Regions from separate parts of the Homo sapiens genome. Here regions 1, 3 and 4 are each linked to region 2. The links come from fine-mapping of genetic effects on gene expression. A gene starts in region 2. Each other region holds a variant in brackets. All regions are shown on one strand. Distances are from middle to middle.

The links.
Region 1: its variant is fine-mapped to the expression of AKR1E2 in whole blood (TOPMed, PIP above 0.99).
Region 3: its variant is fine-mapped to the expression of AKR1E2 in whole blood (TOPMed, PIP 0.94).
Region 4: its variant is fine-mapped to the expression of AKR1E2 in whole blood (INTERVAL, PIP above 0.99).

Annotation. Positions count from the first base shown.
Region 1 is chr10:4,872,491-4,875,176 of GRCh38, forward strand. It overlaps a transcript of AKR1E2 not described here and the pseudogene AKR1C6P. Among named protein-coding and RNA genes, the nearest start is that of AKR1E2, 48 kb to the left of the region's middle. The variant T/G (reference allele first, on the strand shown) is at 1,123.
Region 2 is chr10:4,824,807-4,827,492 of GRCh38, forward strand. AKR1E2 (aldo-keto reductase family 1 member E2) reads left to right here and starts at 1,401. Exons shown (of 10, transcript NM_001040177.3): 1 at 1,401-1,557. The coding sequence starts at 1,519. RefSeq lists a silencer at 1,828-1,907.
Region 3 is chr10:5,292,514-5,295,199 of GRCh38, forward strand. No RefSeq gene overlaps it. Among named protein-coding and RNA genes, the nearest start is that of LINC02561, 23 kb to the left of the region's middle. The variant G/C (reference allele first, on the strand shown) is at 1,574.
Region 4 is chr10:4,852,727-4,855,412 of GRCh38, forward strand. It overlaps a transcript of AKR1E2 not described here. Among named protein-coding and RNA genes, the nearest start is that of AKR1E2, 28 kb to the left of the region's middle. The variant T/C (reference allele first, on the strand shown) is at 1,422.

The sequences.
Region 1 (2,686 bases), 48 kb after region 2:
AATTCTTTCTGTATATGAAGTAATAATTTTTGACATAGAAAATGCCAAGTCATTGAATAGTTATTGTTGATTAATATTACTGATATTTATTGTTAGGGGTTCCTGCCTGCATCTCCACTCTCTGTTACCCCTACCCTGTTTCTCATTTTATTATGTTATTTATTCAACCAATATGTATTGAGTACCCAGGGAGAGACTAGTTTAAGAACAAAAACAAAACAAAAACCCTGCCCTTAGAATCTAACACTCTAATGTGGTAAAGATAAAATAAGCTAAATAAACTAGTAAAATATATGGTGTGTAAGTTAGGGATATGTGTCAAGCACAAAAATAAATCAGAATAGAGAGAAAGGCTCTTCTAGGACGAGTTGCATTTTTAGATAAGTGACAGAGAAGGCATCATCGAGTGATATATGAGTGAAGACCTGAAGGATGTAAAGGAGTGAGCAATCCTGCTCTATGGGGAAAGAGATTTCTAGGCAGGGGGAATGGCCAGTGGAAAGGCCCTAAGACAGGCCTGACATATGTCAGTGATGTGGTTTGGCTGTGTCCCCACCCAAATCTCATCTTGAATTGTAACTCCCACAATTCCCATGTGTCGTCGGAGGAACCCAGTGGGAGGTGGTTGAATTATGAGGGTGGGTTTTTCCTGCGCTGTTCTTGTGATAGTGAATGAGTCTCACGAGATCTGATGGTTTTAACAACAGGAGTTTCTCTACACAGGCTCTCTTTTTGCCTGCTGCCATCCATGTAAGACGCGACTTGTTTCTCCTTGCCTTCTGTCATGATTGTGAGGCTTCCCCAGACACTTGGAACTGTAAGTCCATTAAACCTCTCTTCTTTTGTAAATTACCCAGTCTTGAGTATGTCTTTATCAGCAGTGTGAAAATGGACTAATACAGTCAGGAACAGCATGGAGGTCACTGGTGCTCCATTGGAGTCAAGAGTGGGGAGAATAGCAGGACAGGGACACAGAGAGTTAAGGGAGGGAGTGTCTATTGGCCCTTGTAGGTCTGTGTAAGGAATTTGGTCTCAACTCTGAGTGAGATGGCAGTCTCCCACATATTGAGGAGTTCCTGTGTACACCCTTTTTAACCTGTTCACTGTGGCTACTATGCCTGG[T/G]GCTGAAGTACAGAAGAGGGAGCACTACCAGGAGCCAGTTACTTTATCATAAAGATATCGGTATGAGTGTGGGGTGTGTGTGTGTGTGTGTGTGTGTGTGTGTGTGTGTCTGTGTGTCTGTGTGTATTGGGGAAGGGATTGCAGATACCAGTATGAGCCCAGTTACAGACATGATAAGTTGGAGATGCATAGTAGATATCCAAGTAGAGGCAAGTAGACACATATACAAACCTTGCTCCAGAGCCTTGAACTGGGCTGGATATGATTTGGGGAATCTATATTTAGATGATATTTGAAGCATGAGACTAGATGAAATCAACAATGATGTTAAAGTAGATAGAGAAAGGAGAAGAGGTCTAGGTTGAGCTCTAAGTCACTCCAAAACTGAGAGGTCAAGCTAATGCAGAGAAACCAGCAAAGAACATTAGAAGAAATGGCAAGGGTTGAGGGTATTTACAAGGATGTTGGTATATTGATTGACCCCATAATTTAAGTAGGCAAAGAAGGACAGAGGGCACATTAGAGGGTCAAGTAACAGTGAAAAGGTGGTACGGTCAGTGAATTATAGCTCATGTGGTAATCAAAGGATTGTTGAAGTTGGCCATGTAGAGAAGGAGCGGGACATGTAGGAGGTGATGACTATAGTGTAAGAATTTAAAATTGACATCCAGGCATGGTTATAGTAACTCGTAATGACAAGGTCTAGAATGAGACCATTAGGTTGATAGGCTGAGTTAGACTGAAGGATAAACACATTGGAAGAGGAAAGTCACAAAACTGAAAGATCAGACTATTACAAGGACTGTCTCTGTAGTGTTGAAATCAAAAGAAATTATGGCAGGTCTACTGTTGGAGAGGATGAAAACTAGGAACTAAAATCTTCGGTGGATGAGAGAAGACCTGGGAATGCAGCCCTGATGACTGCAAAGGACAGGGGTAGTGCTGGGTTTGTCTGATGACACAAAGTCCAGAGCTGAATGCTTTTAGAAAGAGAGTTCCTACTCAATATTCAGGCTTAGCACTACTAAGGTCTTGGGAAGGATAACAGCCCCAACTGGAGAGGGCTGACAGGAATCAGTGCTACCAAGAGAAATGGGGTTTCAGCTATTGGGAAAAGGTGAAAAGAACATTTAGAGAAGACAACAAAGATAAAACGGTTTTGCCAGTGGTTGAGTAGGAGTTTCAGAAAGCACAGTGAAAACATGTTGAGGTGGTGTACACAGAGCTATTTGGGAACCAGGAATTTTAGGCTCCTGTAGTGACTGAACTAACAGTGACAAAGACCATGTTAGCCTCAAGGGAGTTAAGGGGCTGGTTGGCAGGGGAGGATGGGAGTCTGTCCAGGAGCTACTGGATTGCTTGCTCTTCCCGTGTTTGGAGATGTTTACATACATATATGTACTAAATGTCACTGAACAGAAAAAAAAATAGCTTACAGATTTTTCTCTACAGCCTTCTGAGAATCATAGAGTCTAAAAGTTTGAAGGGCCATTAAAAGTCTATCTTTGGAAATAACTTTTTTCCTGCCATTGGATTTTCATTATCACCTCCATTTGCTTGATAC
Region 2 (2,686 bases):
TTGCAGCATAAATGCCACTTCATTGAGGTGTTGAGGATTCCCTCACTCTGTCCCTTCCGCCTCTCACCACAAGCACCTGCTTTATTTTACTATAGCACCTGCTCTTTTTTTTTCTCATGCATTTGCTTTTATGCTCTGTCCATTCATTCCTACAGATGGTGAGCTCCTGAGGGCAAGGCCCATGCAGGTCATTTTCAGCACTGCACCCTGGCCTAACTTGCCCCGTGCACAGGTGAGTGCTCCAGGCACAGTTTCTGAATGAATAAATGAGAGTATCGAAGATCCCCCTTCCCACCTGTGAGGAGCTCACATTGAGGAGATGGATGCTCACAGGAGATGCAAGTTGGGTGGGAGGCAGGGGGACACCCAGAGTGACCCTGGGAGTTTCTCTGGCTGCAGCCGCCCCATTGAGCAGAATGGGCAGCGCCTCCCCTGATGGCCAGCACTGAAGACCCAGGCAAGGAACCTAGAAACAAAGCCCTCATCTGGGTGTGGGTGTCCTCAAGGCAGTAGGACTCCCAGGGCTGAGGGGGGCAATGAAGGGGGAGCTGTAAGCTCCAGGAGAGATAAGAGGGGCGTCGGAAGGCTCCCTTGACCCCTCTTTCCCTCCACTGGCCCTGGGGGAGCCCAGTCCACTCATAAGGGGGGTGTCCAGTCCACCCCATCCACTTCCAAACGGGGGCCCGAGGCTGCAAGCAAGGACGCTCCCCTCTACATGCAGGGCTCGGCCTCCCCTGCACCACCCAGGACCCCCGCTGTCCTGCAAGCCCCAGCCGCTCTGGGCCAGGACCCAGGGAGTGGAAGGCATTTTCCAAGGGCACAGTGGCTCCCTGACGGGGAACCAAGGCCAGGCACGCTTCTCCCAGACTGGGGGCCTCGGGGCACCTGAGAATGGCCATCCTTGGTACAAGAGAGCGGGGACCCACTCCCGCGCACCCTGTGCCCCAGGGGACGCAGGACTCTGCACCCTGACCCTAGAGCTTGCCCTAGGATGGCCCGGCCATGGCGAGGCCCTGGAACGGTGAAGACTCTCTGCCCATCAACCTAGCACCTCTGCCCTACCCTCAGTCGCATATGCACCCGGTGCGAGGGAGAAGGCAACCAGGAGGTCACACCTAAGGTGGGGGCGTGAGCGGCAATGCCAGCCGATTGTAAAACCTTCCCTGCTCCTGCGTGGCTCTGCAAGCCAATCGAAAATTCCGTCGTCTATGCCGCCAGCCAATCAGGATGTCCAGAGCGCGGTGCTTCCAGCCATTTGGGACTCCAGCTGGCTCTGCGCCTCCAGCCAATCGGGGTGCCCGTCCTTAATACAACCAGCCAGTCAGTGCCCGGCGCGCGACACCAGCAGCCAGTCAGGAAGCCCTGCGTTCATGCTTCCAGCCATTGTCGGAGTGTCAGCCGTCACAAGGCACTTCCAGCCAGTCGCAACGGCGGGTCGCCAGCGCCGCAGTAGCTCGCGCGGTGCCTGTCGGTAGTCGCGTGCGGGGCGGCGGGGCGGCGGGGCGGCCGGCGGCGGCCATGGGAGATATCCCAGCCGTGGGCCTCAGCTCCTGGAAGGTGACGCGGTCGCGGGCAGGGAGGCGCGCCTGACCTAGGGGAGCGCGGGACTTGGGGGCGCCCGATGGGACCCAGGCCGGGGCTGGGGAGAAGTGCGGCGGCCTCCCCTCCGCCTGGCCGACGCCCGGGAAAGGCGCTGCTGAGGTGGCCGCCCACCGCCCACAAGCAGCCCGGCCCGGCCTTTCCTAAAACGGAGTCGGTGCTGCCCGCCGAGGCGCTCTCTGGGAGAAGCGGGAACCTCGGCAGCCAAGCCTCAGACTCTGGGGCTGCGGCCGCGGCGTTGGGCGGGGCTGCTCTGTGGAGAGGCGGAGCCCTTGAAGTTACTCAGAACTGGAGCGGGGATGCCGAGGGGAGGCCTTGGCGGCGCTGGACTCGGCCGGAACAGGGAACCTCGAAGCCTCCTCTCCAGCAAAGAGAGAAAGAAAAGTTGGGGCCGGGCGTGGGGTGCGGGCTTGTAATCCCAGCACTTTGGGAGGCCGAGGCAGTAGGATCGCCTGAGCTCAGGAGTTCAAGACCAGCCAGGTCAACATGGCGAAACCCTGTTTCTACAAAAAATGAACAAATCAGCTGGGCTTGGGGGTGCGCGCCTGTGGTCCCAGCTACTCAGGAGGCTGAGGTGGGAGGATCACTGGAGACCAGGAAGTCGATGCTGCAGTGAGCTTTGATGGCGCCACTGCACTCCAGCCTTGGGGACAGAGCCAGACCTTGCTGGAAAAAAAAAAAAAAAAAAGAAAAAAGGAAAATTGGAATTGCTGATTAGGCTTTAAAAGAAACTTTGGGATCTCATGTTGTTCCCTGTTTAGAAGCAACCTGCCCTGATGCCTGAGACATATAATCGCTCTGTGCATTTATGGGGTGCAGCGTAATGTTTTGAGCCGTGTATACAATTGCAATGTGGTTAAATCAAGCTAATTAACATATCTATCACCTCTCTCAGTTATTATTGTTTGTGGTAAGATGTTTGAAATGTCTTGTTATTTTGAAATACACATGTGTAGTAAATTATTGTTGACTGTTGGCATCCTAGTGCGCAGTAAGTCTTAAAAGCTGTGTCTCCTGTGTGTTTGAAACTTTGTACCCTTTGATCAGCAACTCCCCATTCCCTCCTTCCTCACCTCCCCCAGCCCCC
Region 3 (2,686 bases), 470 kb after region 2:
AGAGATGAATGCCCTCCCAGGGGAGGGGGGTAAGGTCTTACTCTATTAGTTCCCATGAGAGCTAGTTGTTAAAAAGAACCTGGCCCCTCCCCTCCTTCCTGCTTCCTGTCTCACCACACGATCTCCGCACACACCAGCTCCCCTTCACCTTCTTCCACACTTGGAAGCAGCCTGAGGCCCTCACCAGAAGCCCAGTCCTGAAACTTCCAGCCAGCAGAACTGTGAGCTGAATAAACTTCTTTTCTCTATAAATTACCCAGCTTCAAGTCCTCCTTTATAGCAACAATAAATGGACTAAGAGGGGCTCTAATCCCATTCATGAGGGTTCCACCCTCACGACCTAATCACCTCCACAGGACCCACCACCAAATAGCATCACCTTGGGGGTTAAGGCTTCATATACGACTTTGGTGGGGATGTAAAGATTCCATTCATTGCACAGGGCAAAGGGAGGCCATAGCAGCAGGGTCATAGTGTTCTGGGGCTGCTCACTGCCCCTCACTCCCAGGCCTGCCCCACCCCAGCCAAGGCCTTCATGCTGCTCTGGGCTACCTCTCCCAGGTCCTGCATCCCAAGCAAAGGTACAGACTCAATTGAGATCTCCTGAGACTCACTCCCTGCCCCTGCAACAAGATGGACATGTCCTTGTCAAGTTCTTCTCTAGGAAAATGTGGGCATCACATAGAGACTCGTACCTACCTGTGCAGAGGTTTTCCAGAGCCTCGATCACCCCCTCTGTCTCATCATTGGTTTCTGGCTTCAGTCTCACCTTCTTGGTGATGTCTTTGTCCCTGTGTCATTCTAATCAAAGTAGCTCCCCAGTCCCCACTGTGTCTCTCCATCTTACTCCTCAGTTTTAGTTCCTTCAGAACAATTGTGACCAGAGCAATTGCCTGAATTATTCACTTATTTTGTGGTATGTTTTCATATTTATTGACTGATTTCTCCAACACTAATCACCACACCTAGAAAAGCTCCCTAGTATGTGGTCAGTGCTCAATAAATATTTGCGGAATGAATGAAATTGAGTTCTAAGCATAGGCACAGTGGGGTTTTTTTTTTTTTTAAGTTTTTCTGTGCTCTGTTCTTATTTTCTGTGATCTGCAAACTATCTCTAAATCCTTATGAAAGATTGCGTCCAACACTGTTTTTTGCAGTGGGAAATTGAGAGGCCCATGTTGCACTCAAACAGAGCAGCAAAGCATTCGTCATCCCTCCCCTCAGGGCTGGGACTAACAGCAGGGCCTTCCTCAGCAGAGTACAGCTATGCCCAGCTGAGTGACAAATGCTCTAGTCAGAGAACACAGCAGCACAGGAGGCCAGCATGGTGGCCACAGGGGGAGTTCACGCGTGGCCGCTTGTGGACAGGTGCAGGGTGGCAGCCCTGAGGAGGTTCAGAACACCAGGGGCATCTTGAGGTAACAGCATCAGTCATGAACCAGGATATAAAAATCCATGCTGCTTATTTAAACAGGATGTGTAATCAGACGGTTGGAGTATCTACAAAGAAGCCAGTCAGGAAACAATAAAGCAACCCAGAGGCTTTTAAACACAGGAAGTCGCTACCCTCCTA[G/C]GCTAGAGAAACAGAGGTAGCAGTGCTGGAGGCAGAGCCCGGGGTCCCTGGAAGAAGCAGCAGCCATGGAGGGCCTGAGGGAGGCAGCCAGGACGACTGGAGGGATGGAAGCTGCTGCTGTGTCCCCTAGAGAAGGGAAGAAAGGCACCTGGACTCCAGCTTCCCTTTCTGCTCTCAGCAGCGCCTCACAGTGGCCAAGTCCAGCTGGAAGGCAGCAGGCAGAGAGGGCAGCACCCAGGGCAGAAGAGGCCGCTCTCCTGGGCTACAGCAGAGCAGGAGAGGGAGGAGGAGGGGCACTGAGCAGACAGGAGTGTCAGTCAATCAGGCTGACCCTGGCCCCGCATCCTCAACGGGATGTTAATGAAATACCGCCTTCTTCTGTAGTTCAGGCTGATGGGGCAGGAATGCTGGGTTATGTAAGTGTCGCAGTGTTCACTGAGGGGGATAACACGAAAAACTTATTTGTTCCTGGGAAAATTTCTTAAATCTCATTAAGGCTTCTTAAGCATTCACAAGATTAAAGCCACCTTTGCCAGAGGTTAGGATTAATAGGTGGGGCTAAATAGCCTACCTGAAATTCAGTTCCAGAAATATTTACTGAGTATCTTTTATGTGCAACTGTTCCTAGGTTTTGTTTGTTTGTTTGTTTGTTTGTTTGAGACAGAGTCTCGCTCTGTCGCCCAGGCTGGAGTGCAGTGGCGCGATCTCGGCTCACTGCAAGCTCCGCCTCCTGGGTTCACGCCATTCTCCTGCCTCAGCCTCCCGAGTAGCTGGGTGGGACTACAGGCGCCCGCCACCACACCCGGCTAATTTTTTTGTATTTTTAGTAAAGACGGGGTTTCACTGTGTTAGCCAGGATGGTCTCGATCTCCTGATCTCATGATCCGCCCACCTCAGCCTCCCAAGGTGCTGGGATTACAGGCGTGAGCCACCGCGCCCGGCCCCTAGTATTTTTTTTTAAATCAGGCATGTAAGAATAAGTCCAAGAGTTCCACATTCAATTTTGTGAGGCTATATCTTCACATGTTCCCTTGGGCTGGGACTAAAACAACAGCCTTCCTTGAAACTAGGACGTGGGAGTGATGGTACTAGGGCAATTGCATCATGATGAAA
Region 4 (2,686 bases), 28 kb after region 2:
TCATTTTATTTTGTTGTTTTTGTTCTAAAAATATTTTATTCTTTTTTTTGGCTTACACGGCAGAAATCCATTTTCTCACAGTTTTAGAGGCTAGAAGTCTAGGGTCAAGGTGTTAACAGATTTGGTTTCTTCTGAGGCCTCTCTCCAGGACTTTTCCTTCTGTGTCCTCACATGGTCTTCCTTCTGTGTGTGTCTGTGACCTTGAGGGATATTTTAAAGCTGAAGAGATAAAAGAGGTTGTGGGGCTATGTCTTAAGACAAAAGAACATTTAGGAAACCTCAGGAAATGATCAGAGTGGGATAGATGTTACTAGAAGAAACAAAGAAATTGAATTCAATTAGGAGTTAGAATCATTTACAAAGCAATGGGGAAAGTAAGCCCCTAAAAACTATTGTAGCATATAGTAACCAGAGCCAAACTCTCATAATATATTCCCCAAGGCAAAAGAAAAATATTTACAAGATTGGCGTTGTTTTATATGTTTGCAAACTTATTTAATAAGTCTGGCTTTGTAGATTTCATATCTGAGTCTGCATTCAATCAAAATGTCTTGGCTAAACTTCATGAAAAAACCCCAGCCTCATAAATTAGTAGTTGGAAAAAGGAGGCATATTTAGAGCTTTTTCAGATAATTGTATTTCTTTGATACATTAGACTGGACACACAGTAGTTTGTTTAAGGTTAATTGCAATATTGCAATGAGGAACTTGTTGCCAAAAAAAAAAAAAAAACCAAACTCTGTAAAATATCTGAAGAGATTGATTCTAAGCCAAATATGAGAACCATGACCCATGACACAGCCTCAGGAGATCCTGAGGACATGTGCCCATTGTGGTCTGGTTACAGCTTAGTTTTATATGTTTTAGGGAGACATAAGACACCAATCCGTATAAGTGAGATAGACTTTGGTTTGGTCTGGAAACATGGAACAACTGAAAGTGGGGACAACTGTCAGAGGCATTTAAATCAGAGCAACTCCACCTTGAATAGGGGCTGAGTAAAATGAGACTGAGACCTATTGGGCTGCATTCCCAGATGGTTAAGGCATTCTAAGTCACAGGATGAGATAGGAGGTCACACAAAATACAGGTCATAAAGACCTTGCTGATAAAACAGGTTGCAATAAATCCCCCAAAACCAAGATGGCGATGAGAGTGACCTCTGGTCGTCCTCAATGCTACACTCCCACCAGCGCCATGGCAATGTCAGGGAGCTACCCTATAGGGTCTAAAAAGGGGAGGCAGAAATAATGTACTCCTTGTTTAGCATATCATCAAGAAATAACCATAAAACTGGGCAGCCAGCAGCCCTTGGGGCTGTTTTGTCTATGGAGTAGCCATTCTTTTACTCCTTTACTGTTTTTTTTTTTTTTTTTTTTTTTTTTTAGACAGAGTCATGCTCTGCTGCCAAGGCTGGAGTA[T/C]AGTGGCACTATCTCAACTCACTGCAAACTCCACCTCCCGGGTTCAAGTGATTCTTCTGCCTCAGCCTCCCGAGTATCTGGGACTACAGGTGCATGCCACCACATCCAGCTAATTTTTGTATTTCTAGTAGAGATGGGGTTTCACCATATTGACCAGGCTGGTCTTTAACTCCTGACCTCATGATCTGCCCACCTTGGCCTCCCAAAGTGCTGGGATTATAGGCATGAGCCACCGCACCTGGCCTACTCCTTTACTTTCTTAATAAACTTGCTTTCACTTTACTCTGTGGACTTGCCCTGAATTCACTCGTGCGAGATCTAAGAACCCTCTCTTGGGGTCTTCTTCCAGACCCTTTGCTGTAACATCTTTCTTGTGACCACTGAAGGGACTATAGTGAGGAACCCCCCGCCCCGACCCAGAGGCTAACTTTGGGTAAGTGGTGGGTGGGGTCCAGTAACATTTTTCTCATGAACCACAAAAGGGCTGATACTGAGGAGACCTCCCACCCAAAGGAAATAGACTACAGCAGTGATCAGCGGACTTTGGGTAAGTGGGGTGTGTATACCCAGGTAAAGAATGGGATTTGGTAGCAGGCCTAACTTAGGGGAGTTAGGGTCTCTCCTAAGACAGAGTAGGTTAGAGGCCCCTCTTCATAAAAGGCAAGGACACTTGACTGACCTTGGGTTAGAGGCCCAACTAAGGAGGGTTAGAGGCCCCTCTGGGTAAAGTCTCTTTCGGCTAAGAATGGGTTTGGCACTATGGGATGTTAACTGCTATTGTCTTTGGAATAATCTGCCTTGCCCTCTTTGCTGATGGCTATGGGTGACAGGATTAGACATGTACAGGATCATGGGACATGGGGAGCTTTTTCCTCCCTAAGAAGGGAAACTTGAGAGCTGATGGGACTGCTGGAAAAGATCGCTTCATGACCACAAGTTGCCACCTGAACTTTTCAGTGTAGCTGCCTTTGGGTGGGTCTTTCTCTGTCCTCCCTGAGCACCTTGCCTTTCCCACCCTGCCTCAGGCAGTGCTTCACCATCCCTGCAAATGGGTTGAATGAATGGTAAAAATAACTGTTTATCTTCTCTTCTTTGTAAAGTGTTGATTAATGGAAAAAAGGATTTGTGAGGCTAGTCATAAGTTGGGGCAAATCTGATGTGCTTTGTGTGTCTTTCTGTATTGTTCTGTCATAAGGAGGAGTATCTTAGAATAGAATATGGGCTTAGGACAGCTATACACCTGCTGTTCAAGATGGCCAAGCAGA